Linked DNA regions of Homo sapiens: region 2 is linked to region 1. Evidence: fine-mapped expression QTL. A gene starts in region 1. The other region holds a variant in brackets. All regions are shown on one strand. Distances are from middle to middle.

Region 1 (5,370 bases):
GTATTTCCCCTGCATGAAGCTGTTTCACAGCCCTCTGTCCTGGGCCACCCTCACCTGGGATGGGCCTGGGAGCCCAGCCATTTCTACAAGGTCAGGGAAGAAGGCCAAAGGTTAGTTGAGGGAAAGAGGAAAAGGGTTACTCAAGAAGGGAGGCTCAAAGAGGAATTCAAGTTTTAGAAAATGAAAGAAAGTGCAAAGAAGCAAAAAGACAACTCTACAAAAAATAACATAATAAGGGAGGTAGAGGTCAGAACCAACTGCCAAAAGATGGTGTAACCTGAACAGAAGCGTTTTCATCCTCCCATCATGCCCAGGTGGAGAGACTTGGAGAAACACCTATGATCTGCAAGGAACGTATCTACCTGTTCCAACAGACTTCAACATGAAAGGGTGCACACCGTGGGGAAACTCCCAACCACCAACAGATCCAGAAACAACCTCCAAAACCCAGCCCAGAGTCCCAAGGACAGCCACAGGCTGAGGTCCAATAAACATTCGAAGCCCCCCCAACCAATCTGACATCCCACTGGATCACTACCATAGCAACACAGTGGCAAAAGGTGCCCCTCAAGAGACCATCCCAGGTGTCCATCTGGCAGCTACCCCCTACCCCAGTTGCCAAAGCAACTCCTACCCTCCTATAGCACCTCAGGTAAGGGAGCTTGAAGGTACCTACCCTAGTCAAAATAAGCCCATGCACAAAGGGAGATCTTTGAGCTCAAAGCAGTAACTAAGGCCTCCCTATATAGATCACAGCTCCAGGGGCAGCGGACGCTCCGGAAATTGGAGGGTGGAGGGTGGAGGTCGCAACTTGCCTGGAGTGCCTGTAAGGTTGCTCAATTCTCCATTTCCATCCTCCCAGAACCCCTTTCTTCCCAACTCCCCCTTCTGTGTTCCTGTTTTCCTCCTCACTAGTTTTGGGATAACCCACACTACTGGGCCCCAGTGCCCTCTCCAAGAAATAACTATGTCTGGGATAGGGAAAACAGGGTCAGAGGTGACCTGCAGTAGGGGAATGAAAACCGTCACAAAGACATGGCCTTCCCTCTTCCACGCTGGAAAACCTCCGGCTCTTCTCAAAAATGGACCTCTCTTTGCCCAAGCCTCCGTCTCCCCCAGGTTCATCAGCCACAATCCCTCTTTCCACCTACCACACCCCTTTCCCGTTTCCCACTTCCCGTCTATTCCTAAAGCCCCCAACCCCAGGCTCCGGAACCCGTGTTCTGGTCCTTTGGAGCTTTTTCCTGGAGGCTTCATGCCCCACCTCGCTGCCATCTCTCCTATCCATTCTGCCTTCGCCCGGAACCCCACTCACAGCATCCCCCGTTTTCCTCCGCCAACCCCGGCCTCGATGTTCCTCCTCTTTTGAGTCTGCGGGTCCCGGATACCCTCTGGCCCCACAGGCCTCCTCCGGAGACCCTCCCTCCTTCCCCACCTTCCCGATCCTCCCGAAACCCTGGCCCCCGACTCTCCTCGGCGGGCCCCACCCCCTGAGCCCCCGGCCCTCAGGCCAGGCAGAGCCCGCAGTGGGGGGACGGGATTGGGAAAATAACAAATGGAGGCGGCGGCGGCAGGAGGGGGAACTGGGAGGGGTGGGGGTGGGGAGCCGCAGGCCGGAGCCCGGGCGGGACAGAACCCCGCGGGCCCGGGGCCCAGGCGGCCGCAGACCTTACCTGCTGGTAGCTCGGGACGGCTGGCTGGCTCCGAGCGGGATTCCGGGCTCCGGCGCCTCTGGGGGGCGGCGGCGGCAGCTCCCCCGCCCCCCTCTCCTCTTCTCGGCCTCAGTCGCCGCCGCGACGACGGCGGCGGCGGCCCCGACCCCCCCGGAGGGCGGCCCCCATCCCCCCTTTTCCCCGCCTGGCCCCAATCGCCCGCCGGCCCCCGGAGCAAACCCCGATCCCCGCTCTGCTCCCCACCTCCCCGGGCTCGCCGCCTCCCCCTGGCCGCCCGGAATGCCCCGGGCCGCGCCGCCCGCCCCCGCCGCGCCGCCCGGCCCCGCGGCCCGCCCGGCCCTCGGCGCGGTTCCGACCCGCCGCCGCCCGCGCCCGCCTAGCGCAGCCCGCACCCGCGCGATCCCGGGCCCCTCGGCCGCCTCGCCCGCGGCCCCCGCCCCTTCCCCGGCAGTCGGCTCCCTCTCCCCCCTCCTAGCCCCTCCCCGAAGCCGCGGTCCCTCCGAAATGGCCCGGCCCGAGGCCCCGACCCGGCGCGGGGCTGCGGACGGGCTGGGCGGTGCGTCCGGCGACTCGCACAGGAAAGCGGACGGCGAAGGGAGGGAGCCTGGGAGAGGGGGATGGGAGAAGGGAGGAAGAGGGAGAAGGAGGGAGCGCGGAGGAACGGAGGAGAGAGGGGCCAGGAGGGAGACGCGAGGGAGGGAGCGCGAGGCAAGCCGCGAGGGGGGAGAGAGGGGGAGCCGGAGAGGGGGAGGCGCAGCGCGAGTTGGCCGAGGCCGAGGCCGAGGGGGCCGGGGCGCGGGGAGGGCTAGCCGTGGCGGAATGTGGGGAGCCCGCGGGCCCGGCGCGGGAGAGGGCTAGGTAGGAGGGGCTGTGGGTGGTGAGGGCAGATGAGGGGAGGCTGAAGTTTGGGGGCGAGCGGGTCTGTGGCAGAGGTGAAGTGGGAGGAGTTTGGGGGATCCTGGGGTAGAGATTGGGATAATGGGATTGGATTGGAAAGATGGAGCTGCCTGGGGGCTTTGTGGGTGCCTGGTGAGAAGTGAGAGAAGCTTGGGGTGAGGGATCTGTGGCAGAGATGGAGCCAGACGGGTTTGGGGGCTATTATCAGAGAGAATGGGATGGAAGTTTGGGGTCATAAGGAGAGAGAAAAATTGAAAAGATGACATATATAGAAAGATGGGGCTTCTGGAAAAAGTAAAGCTTTTGGGGGTGATTAGTGTTGACAAAAGAGTCATAAATATAAGAATTGGGGGTGGGGGGATGAAGGAATGCTGGAGAGAGAGAAGTCCAGAGGAAACGTCAGTGAGGAGAGAGAGGAGGGAACGCGTGAGGAACCTTAAGAAGGGATGAACGAGGTGGGCCCAGGTGCCAATTCTAGGGAAAATAGGTTCTGGGTGAGAAAGGAGGGCTCTGGATGGGAAAGAAGGGTGGGAGACACCGGGCTGGCTGGATCCTGGGGGTGGGGGCTCCCAGTAGAGCCGAGGAGGGTTTACTTGGGCGGGCAGAATGGGGAAGAGGGGGATAAGAAGATTGGAAGGAAATGTAAGCTGAACAAGGCCTATGGCTGGCGGCAGTATGGAAGAGGAAAGATCATGGATGGGAAAAGAAAATGGAGATGGGGCCGGTGCGGGGGCTCACGCCTGTAATCTCAGCACTTTCGGAGGCTGAGTCGGGTGGGTCACTTGTCAGGAGTTCAAGACCAGCCTGGCCAACATGGCGAAACCCCGTCTCTACTAAAAATACAAAAATTAGCCGGGTGTGGTGGCGCATGCCTGTAATCCCAGCTACTCAGAGGCTGAGGCAGGAGAATCCTTGAACCTGGGAGGCAAAGGTTTCAGCAAGCAGAGATCGCGCCACTGCACTCCAGCCTGGGAGACAGAGCGAGACGCCGTCTCAAAAAAAAAAAGAAAAAATGGAGATGGGAAACGAGGGCAGTTAAAGGAAATGACAGATGTGGGAGCGGGGGGAGGTTGCTGGCAAGCTCATGGGTAGATAGGTAAGGGATACAGCTTGGAGGAGTGAGACACCATCCTCAGGCCTTCCATCTAGTGGCATCTCCATTTTCCTTCTCAAATCTGTTGAAAGTCATCACTAAAGATCCCCTGGGTCACAGGGAAGCAGTCGGGTGAAGACTGGGCTTAATGTGGACCCAAATCCCTGGGTATCCTTGTTGCTCAATCCCACTTGTTCTAAGGTGGAGACAGTCCCCACCACAGACTGCAGGCTCCTCCCAACCCTTCCTCTCCCTCCCCTGCTCTCCAGGTAGCCTCTGGCAGTCAGTCTGCTCCCGGCCGTGAAGCCAGCACCTCCGCCAGCCCACCACCAGTTCCTTCTCCTGGGCTCCCTCCTGGCCCTCCACCAAGCGGCAACATCTCCCAGGACAAAGGACACAGGGTGATTTTTGGCAGCAGAAATTGGGAAGGCCAGAGAATGGGAGGGAGGCAGGCTGGCAAGCCGGAAGAGCTGGAGCTGGAGTGTGGATTAGGAGCCCTCAGTAGAGCTCCAGATTTGGGGTGGGGGTCGGGTACTTGTGGGGCCAGTCTTGCTGGAGGCTAAGGGTGGGCCCTGAATTGGCAAGATCCCACCTGCCTTCAGGGAAGGAAGGAGGTTAGCTCTGGAGCAGCTCAGTAGATTTTTGTCTCACAATTCCTTGGGCCAGATTCAACAAAGTTCTGGGAATACTCAAAAGCTCTAAACAAGATTCCAGAGCACTGGGGAACTGGGCGCAGGAACAGGAACACTTCCTTGGCCTGGGAATGAGTCATCACTCTGAAGTCCCTTGAATTGGTTGGCACTCACTTTACCACTCCAAGCACACCTTCCTCCCAGGGCCTCCCTGAGACCAGGCCAGCTCCCTGTCTCCCTGTGCACCCCGACTCCCTTCCTCTTGCTCTAGGGTAGCTGCTGCTCCTCCCCACCCCTGACTTTGTTCCAGGGCTCCCCCTTTCCCTCTCACCCTCTCTCCCCATGGCATTTCCTCTCTTTCTGTACCACTCAGTTCAGTCTCCCACTGGGCCTTGGCTCAAGCCCTTTCCAAATCCCTTCCAGGCTGAGCTCTTCTCCCTTGTTTTTTAATCACTAAGGAATGGGCTACAATGGATACTAAAAGAAAAATTTAGGCATATGTGGGGATAGGGGATGGTGAGAGTCACAAAAGAAACCATTGTCTACCCTCTCCCATTCCTCCCCTACCTGAGGGCCAGGCTTATAGTCCAGCTGCAGGGGACATCTCTCTCTCTCTCTCTCACACACACACACACACACACACACGCACACGCACACACACAGCCCCAGCCATCCCTCACCCCAGCTCCCTCTCTGGCTCAGCCCCCCACAACCCATTGGTCTCCAGGCAACGGCACAAAGGGAAAGTGGAGAGAAGGGCCTGGGAGGCCCAGGCAGAGCTAGCTGTAACCCAATCCAACCCCGATACTTTGGGGGTTGGGGGGCCAGACTGTCAGAGAAGGCGACCTGGTGAGGAGGGATGAAAGAAAGGACAGAGGCTAGGAACTAGGCTCAAACTAGGATAGTCCTGGTCAGTCTGGGAGTTACTAAGGTAAGATGGGTATCAGGGACCCCAGAGAAAACTGAGAGGCACAGAGGAAAGTACAGGAAACCCCAAGGGAGGCATAAAGGGTCGCCAGGAGAAAAGGGAAAGATGAGATGCCCACACTGAAACTAAAAGGCACAGAAATGGAAA
Region 2 (5,370 bases), 28 kb after region 1:
ATATGTCTTGGGCTTCTTTCATGTCACTAAGCATAAATCTACCTCTTTTTCTCATAGTTGTCTAGTCTTCCATTATGTGGATATACTACCACTTTCCTTTCTTTCTTGCGTTTTTCCTTTTTTTTTTTTTTTTTTTGGTGTTGTTTTTTTTTTTTTTGAGATGGAGTCTGGCTCTCTCTCCCAGGCTGGAGTGCAGTGGCGTGATCTCGGCTCACTGCAAGCTCTACCTCCCGGGTTCACGCCATTCTCCTGCCTCAGCCTCCAGAGTAGCTGGGACTACAGGCGCCCACCACCACACCTGGCTAATTTTTTGTATTTTTAGTAGAGACGGGGTTTCACTGTGTTAGCCAGGATCGTCTCGATCTCCTGACCTCGTGATCTGCCCTCCTCGGCCTCCCAAAGTGCTGGGATTACAGGCGTGAGCCACCGCGCCCGGAACTTTCTTGTGTTTTTCTAGAGACAGAGTCTCACTACATTGTCCAGGCTGAGAGGCAGGAGAATAGGGTCCGGAGGCAGGGAATCTAAGGCCGAATCATGCTGACTGAATATCAGAGAGTACTCCCTTTTCAAACCCTCCTTTCTCTGTATGGCATTTGAAAAATGAAAGTACGTCTGATTGGTCCCCTCTCACAACCAGTCAGACTGATAGCAGGCCTACTCTCTTCATTTTGATTGGTCCCCTCCCACAATTAGACTGGCAGTCGGCCACTACTTCATTTGCATAGGGTGAACCAATGGGAAACCTCTAGATTGTATTTAAACCCCAGAAAATTCTGTCACCAATGCTCTTGAGCCACTTGCTGGAGCTTGCTCCCACTCTGTGGACTGTACTTTCCTTTAAAATAAATCTCTGCTTTTGGTGGATCAAGAGGTCAAGAGTTGGAGATCAGCCTGGCCAACATGGTGAAACCCCATCTCTACTAAGAATACAAAAATTAGCGGGGCGTGGTGGTGCAAGCCTGTAATCCCAGCTACTCAGGAGGCTGAGGCAGGAGAATTGCTTGAACCCAGGAGCCGAGATCGTGCCACTGCACTCCAGCCTGGGCGACACAGCAAGACTCCGTCTCGCGGGCACGGTAATTAAAAAAACAAACAAAAAAAATCTCTGCTTTCATTGCCTTGCTTTGTTTGTGTGTTTTGTCGAATTCTTTGTGCAAAACACCAAGAACCTGGACAATTACCCTCAACCGGTCACAGCTGGAGTGCAGTAGTTTTTCACAGGCACAACTGATGCAGGGCAGGTGAACACCCAAATTGGCGATTAGCCCAATAAGGCTCATGGTTCTTTCCTGAGCATGTGGTAGAAGATACAGCTTTATTGAGGATGCAGTTTTACAGCCCCATGACTGCTCCTACCGAGCAAGGCCACCCTCTAGGCAGTGTGTGGAGAGCAGCAACTCAGGGAAACTTCTGCAGTCACATTTATATTGACTTTTAATTACATGCAAATTAAAGAGTGGGTTATTCAGAAATTTCCAGAAAAGGGGTGGTAACTTCCAGGTTGTTATGGAAAAAGGCAGTAACTTCTGGGTGTCGCCATGGCAATGGTAAACTGTCGTGCTGGTGGGCGTGTCTTACGGAGAAGTGCTTTCTGTGCCTCTTCCCTGTTTCAGCCAGTCTTGAATCTGGTCCAAAGTCGAGGTCCTGTTTCCTGCCCACAATCATTGTGCACTACAGCCTCAAACTCCTGGGCTCAAGCCATCGACCTGCCTCAGCATCTCAAGTAGCTGGGACTACAGCTGTGTGCCACCAAGCCTGGCTAGACTTTTAACTGTTCCCTATTGATGGATATTAACTTTTTTTTAAAAATTGTCCATATTACAAATAACGCTGTTTAAATCCCCATAGATATATCTTTGCTCTTCTGCATGAGTACTCTGTAGCAGTATTCCTCAAATGTTAACGTGTATAGAAATTGCTTGAGGATCTCATTGAAATGTAGACCTCTCAAGTGATGCTGATGCTCTTGATTCATGGACTACGCATTGAGTAATATGACTATGTGGGAAACTTTTTTTTTTCTTTCCCAGGCTGGAGTGCAGTGGTGCAATCATCATGGCTCACTGCAGCCCCAACATCCTAAGCTCAGGTGATTCTCCTAACTCAGCCTCCCAGGTAGCTGGGACTACAGGCGCATGTCACCATGCCTAGCTAATTTTTTGCAATTTTTGTAGACACGGGTATTTCTCTATATTGCCCAGGCTAGTCTTGAACTCCTGGACTGAAGCCATCTGCCCGCCTCAGCTTCCCAAAGTGCTGGGATTACAGACAGGCAGGAGCCACCGTGCCCGGCGTACATTCTTAGAAGGTAGAATTTCTGGGTCAAATGGTACGTACTTTGCCAATCTTAATATGTCAAAAAATAGCTTTTGAGGGCTGGGTACAGTGGCTCACGCCTGTAATCCCAGCACTTTGTAAGGCTGAGGCGGGCTGATCATCTGAGTTTAGGAGTTTGAGACCAGCCTGGCCAAAATGGTGAAGCCCCTTCTCTACTAAAATACAAAAATTGGCCAGGC[A/G]CAGTGACTCACACAGTAATCCCAGCACTTGGGGAGGCTGAGGCGGGCAGATCACGAGGTCAGGAGTTCGAGACCAGCCTGGCCAACATGGCAAAACCCCATATCTACCCCCCCCCCCAAAAAAAAAAAATAGCCGGGTGTGGTGGTGGCACATGCCTGTAATTCCAGCTACTGGGAGGCTGAGGCAGGATAATCGCTTGAACCCAGGAGGCAGAGATTGCAGTAAGCTGAGATCACGCCACTGCACTCCAGCCTGGGTGACAGAGTAAGACTCTGTCTCAATAAATAAATAAATAAATAAATAAATACAAATAAATTAGCTGGCATGGTGGCACACACCTGTAATCCCAGCTACTTGGGTGGCTAATGTACAAGAATCTCTTGAACCTGAGAGACAGGGGTTGCAGTGAGCCAAGATTACGTCACTGCACTCCAGCCTGGATGACAGAGCAAGACCCTGTCTCGAAAAAAACAAACAAAAATAACATTATTCTAACTCTTCTAAAGATTGTTATTTTACAGTATTTTTTTTTTTTTTTTTTGAGACAGAGTTTCTCTCTTGTCACCCAGGCTGGAGTGCAATGGCACAATCTCAGCTCACTGCAACCTCCGCCTCCTGGGTTCAAATGATTCTCCTGCCTCAGCCTCCCGAGTAGTTGGGATTAGAGGTGTGTGACGCCACACCTGGTTGATTTTTGTATTTTTAGTAGAGATGGAGTTTCACCATGTTGGCCAGGCTGGTCTCGAACTCCTGACCTCAGGTGATCCACCCGCCTCAGCCTCCCAAAGTGCTGGGATTACAGGCATGAGCCACCGTGCCTGGCCAGTATTTTTTCTTTTTCTTTTTGAGACAGAGTCTCGCTCTGTCACCAGGCTGGAGTGCAGTGGAGTGATCTCGGCTCACCACAACCTCCGACTCCCTGGTTCAAGTGATTCTCCTGCCTCCGCCTCCTGAGTAGCTGGGATTACAGGCACGCACCACCACACCCAGCTAATTTTTCTATTTTTAGTAGAGATGGGATTTCACCATGTTGGCCAGGATGGTCTCAATCTCCTGACCTCATGATCCGCCCGCCTCAGCCTCCCAAAGTGCTGGGATTACAGGCGTGAGCCACCACTCCCGGCCCTGGCCAGTATATTCTTAAATATTACTGTTGAGCCATATATATGACAATGGTGGACTTTGATGAATATCTGCACATCTGTAGTAAAATGTGAAGCTATCTTCATTCTGTTGGTATGGTAAACTTTTAAAATATCTTACTTTTTAAAAAGAGTTGGTTTGTGTGTTTTCTATGCTTACAAATTTTTCCATAGTACTGTAGATCATTTTAGTGATTAAATTTGACCCTTTTGACAGAAAAACAGGTCAATGAGTTCCTTGGGATCAAGAAGGGGTTGACTTCTTGATCTTGATCTTGAGGGAACTGTTAGAGTGATTCTACGATTGTTCTATGTCTTGATTATGATAGGACTATGCATTTGTCAGAGCTTATACTTAACAGGGTGATTTTTTTTTTTTTTTTTGAGATGGAGTCTTGCTCTGTCACCCAGGCTGGAGTGAAATGGCAAGATCTCGGCTCACTGCAACCTCTGCTTCCTGGGTTCAAGCGATTCTAGTGCCTTAGCCTCCCGAGTAGCTGGAATTACAAGCACGTGCCACCCTCCCACTTCAGCCTCCTAAGTAGCTGGGACTGCAGGTGCGCCCCACCATGCCCAGCTAATTTTTAACTTTTTTTTTGTAAAGATGGAGTCTCACTATGTTGCAGAGACTGGTCTGGAACTCCTGGGCTCAAGCGATTCTCCTGCCTTGGCCTCCCAAAGTGCTGGGGTTACAGGCATGAGCCACCATGCCCAGCCAGCCAAGTGCAACTGTTAACTGATTATAGCTGTATAACAAATCATCTCAAAACGTAGCAGCTTAAAACAGCAAAATGTATTATCTCAGTTTCTCAGGAATCCAAGAGTGGCCCAGGTGGGTTCCAGTCAAACGGCTGGCTGGAGCTGCCGTTATCTGAAGGCTTGGCTGGGGCTGAAGGATTTGCTTCCAAGATGGCTTACTCACATGGTTGTTGGCAAGACAGTTCCTTACCATCTGGACTTCTCCACAGGGCCTGAGTGCCCTCATAACATGGCAGCTGGCTTCCCCCAGAGCAAGTGATCCAAGAGAGAAAGAGACCAAGATGAAAGCCACTCTGCCTTTAACTGAGTCTCCAAAGTCACACACCATCACTTCCACTTTATGCTATTCTTTAGACGCCAGTCACTAAGTCCAGCCCACACTCAAGTGGAGGGGAATAAGGCTCACCTCTTAAAAGGAAGAGTATCACAGAATTCATGGACATATTTTTAAACCACCACACAGACACATTAACTTCTTGTCTCTTATACATTTTGAAAATATTTTCCTACTTTGTCATTTCACTTTGCTTATAGAGTGTCACCTTACAGAAATTTGACATTTGTGTGTAGTCCCAACTGCCAGTCTCTTGCATAAGGCTTCTGAACTGTGGGTCTGGTTCAGAAAAGCCTTTTTCACCCCTAAGGTTATGAAAATATTCTCTTGACTATTTTGATGGTATTTAAATATTTTTCGGTCTTTATTACATCTAGAATAGGTTGGTATATAGTGTGAGGTAGGGGAGCCAAAAGGGGAGCCAATTTTTTTCTACATCATTTATTGATTAATCCCATTCTTCTCTACTGACTTGAAATGCCATCTTTATCATATATATGGGTTTTATTCCTGGACCCTATTATCTTCCATTGATCTCTATGTCTACTGCTGCTCCAATGTCATACTGTCATAACTATTGATTTTAGTATTGATTTTTCTCTATATATCATATATCCT

Alleles and levels. Alleles are on the strand shown, and positions count from the first base shown. SD is a standard deviation of normalised expression in the study named.
For the expression in whole blood of the gene that starts at base 2,099 in region 1, A is the low allele of the variant in region 2 and G is the other (small effect, 0.27 SD a copy in Lepik 2017).

Evidence for each region. PIP is the estimated chance that this variant, and not a neighbour inherited with it, causes the effect.
Region 2: its variant is the best candidate, but not a certain one, in a credible set for the expression of ATN1 in whole blood (Lepik 2017, PIP 0.72).

What each region holds. Positions count from the first base shown.
Region 1 is chr12:6,924,688-6,930,057 of GRCh38, reverse strand. ATN1 (atrophin 1) reads right to left here and starts at 2,099. Exons shown (of 10, transcript NM_001940.4): 1 at 1,674-2,099. LOC124902868 (a long non-coding RNA gene) reads left to right here and starts at 2,362. Exons shown (of 2, transcript XR_007063194.1): 1 at 2,362-2,531; 2 at 3,933-5,370. RefSeq lists silencers at 2,101-2,260, 2,441-2,490 and enhancers at 3,515-4,214, 4,915-5,370.
Region 2 is chr12:6,896,261-6,901,630 of GRCh38, reverse strand. No RefSeq gene overlaps it. Among named protein-coding and RNA genes, the nearest start is that of LRRC23, 5.9 kb to the left of the region's middle. The variant A/G (reference allele first, on the strand shown) is at 2,517.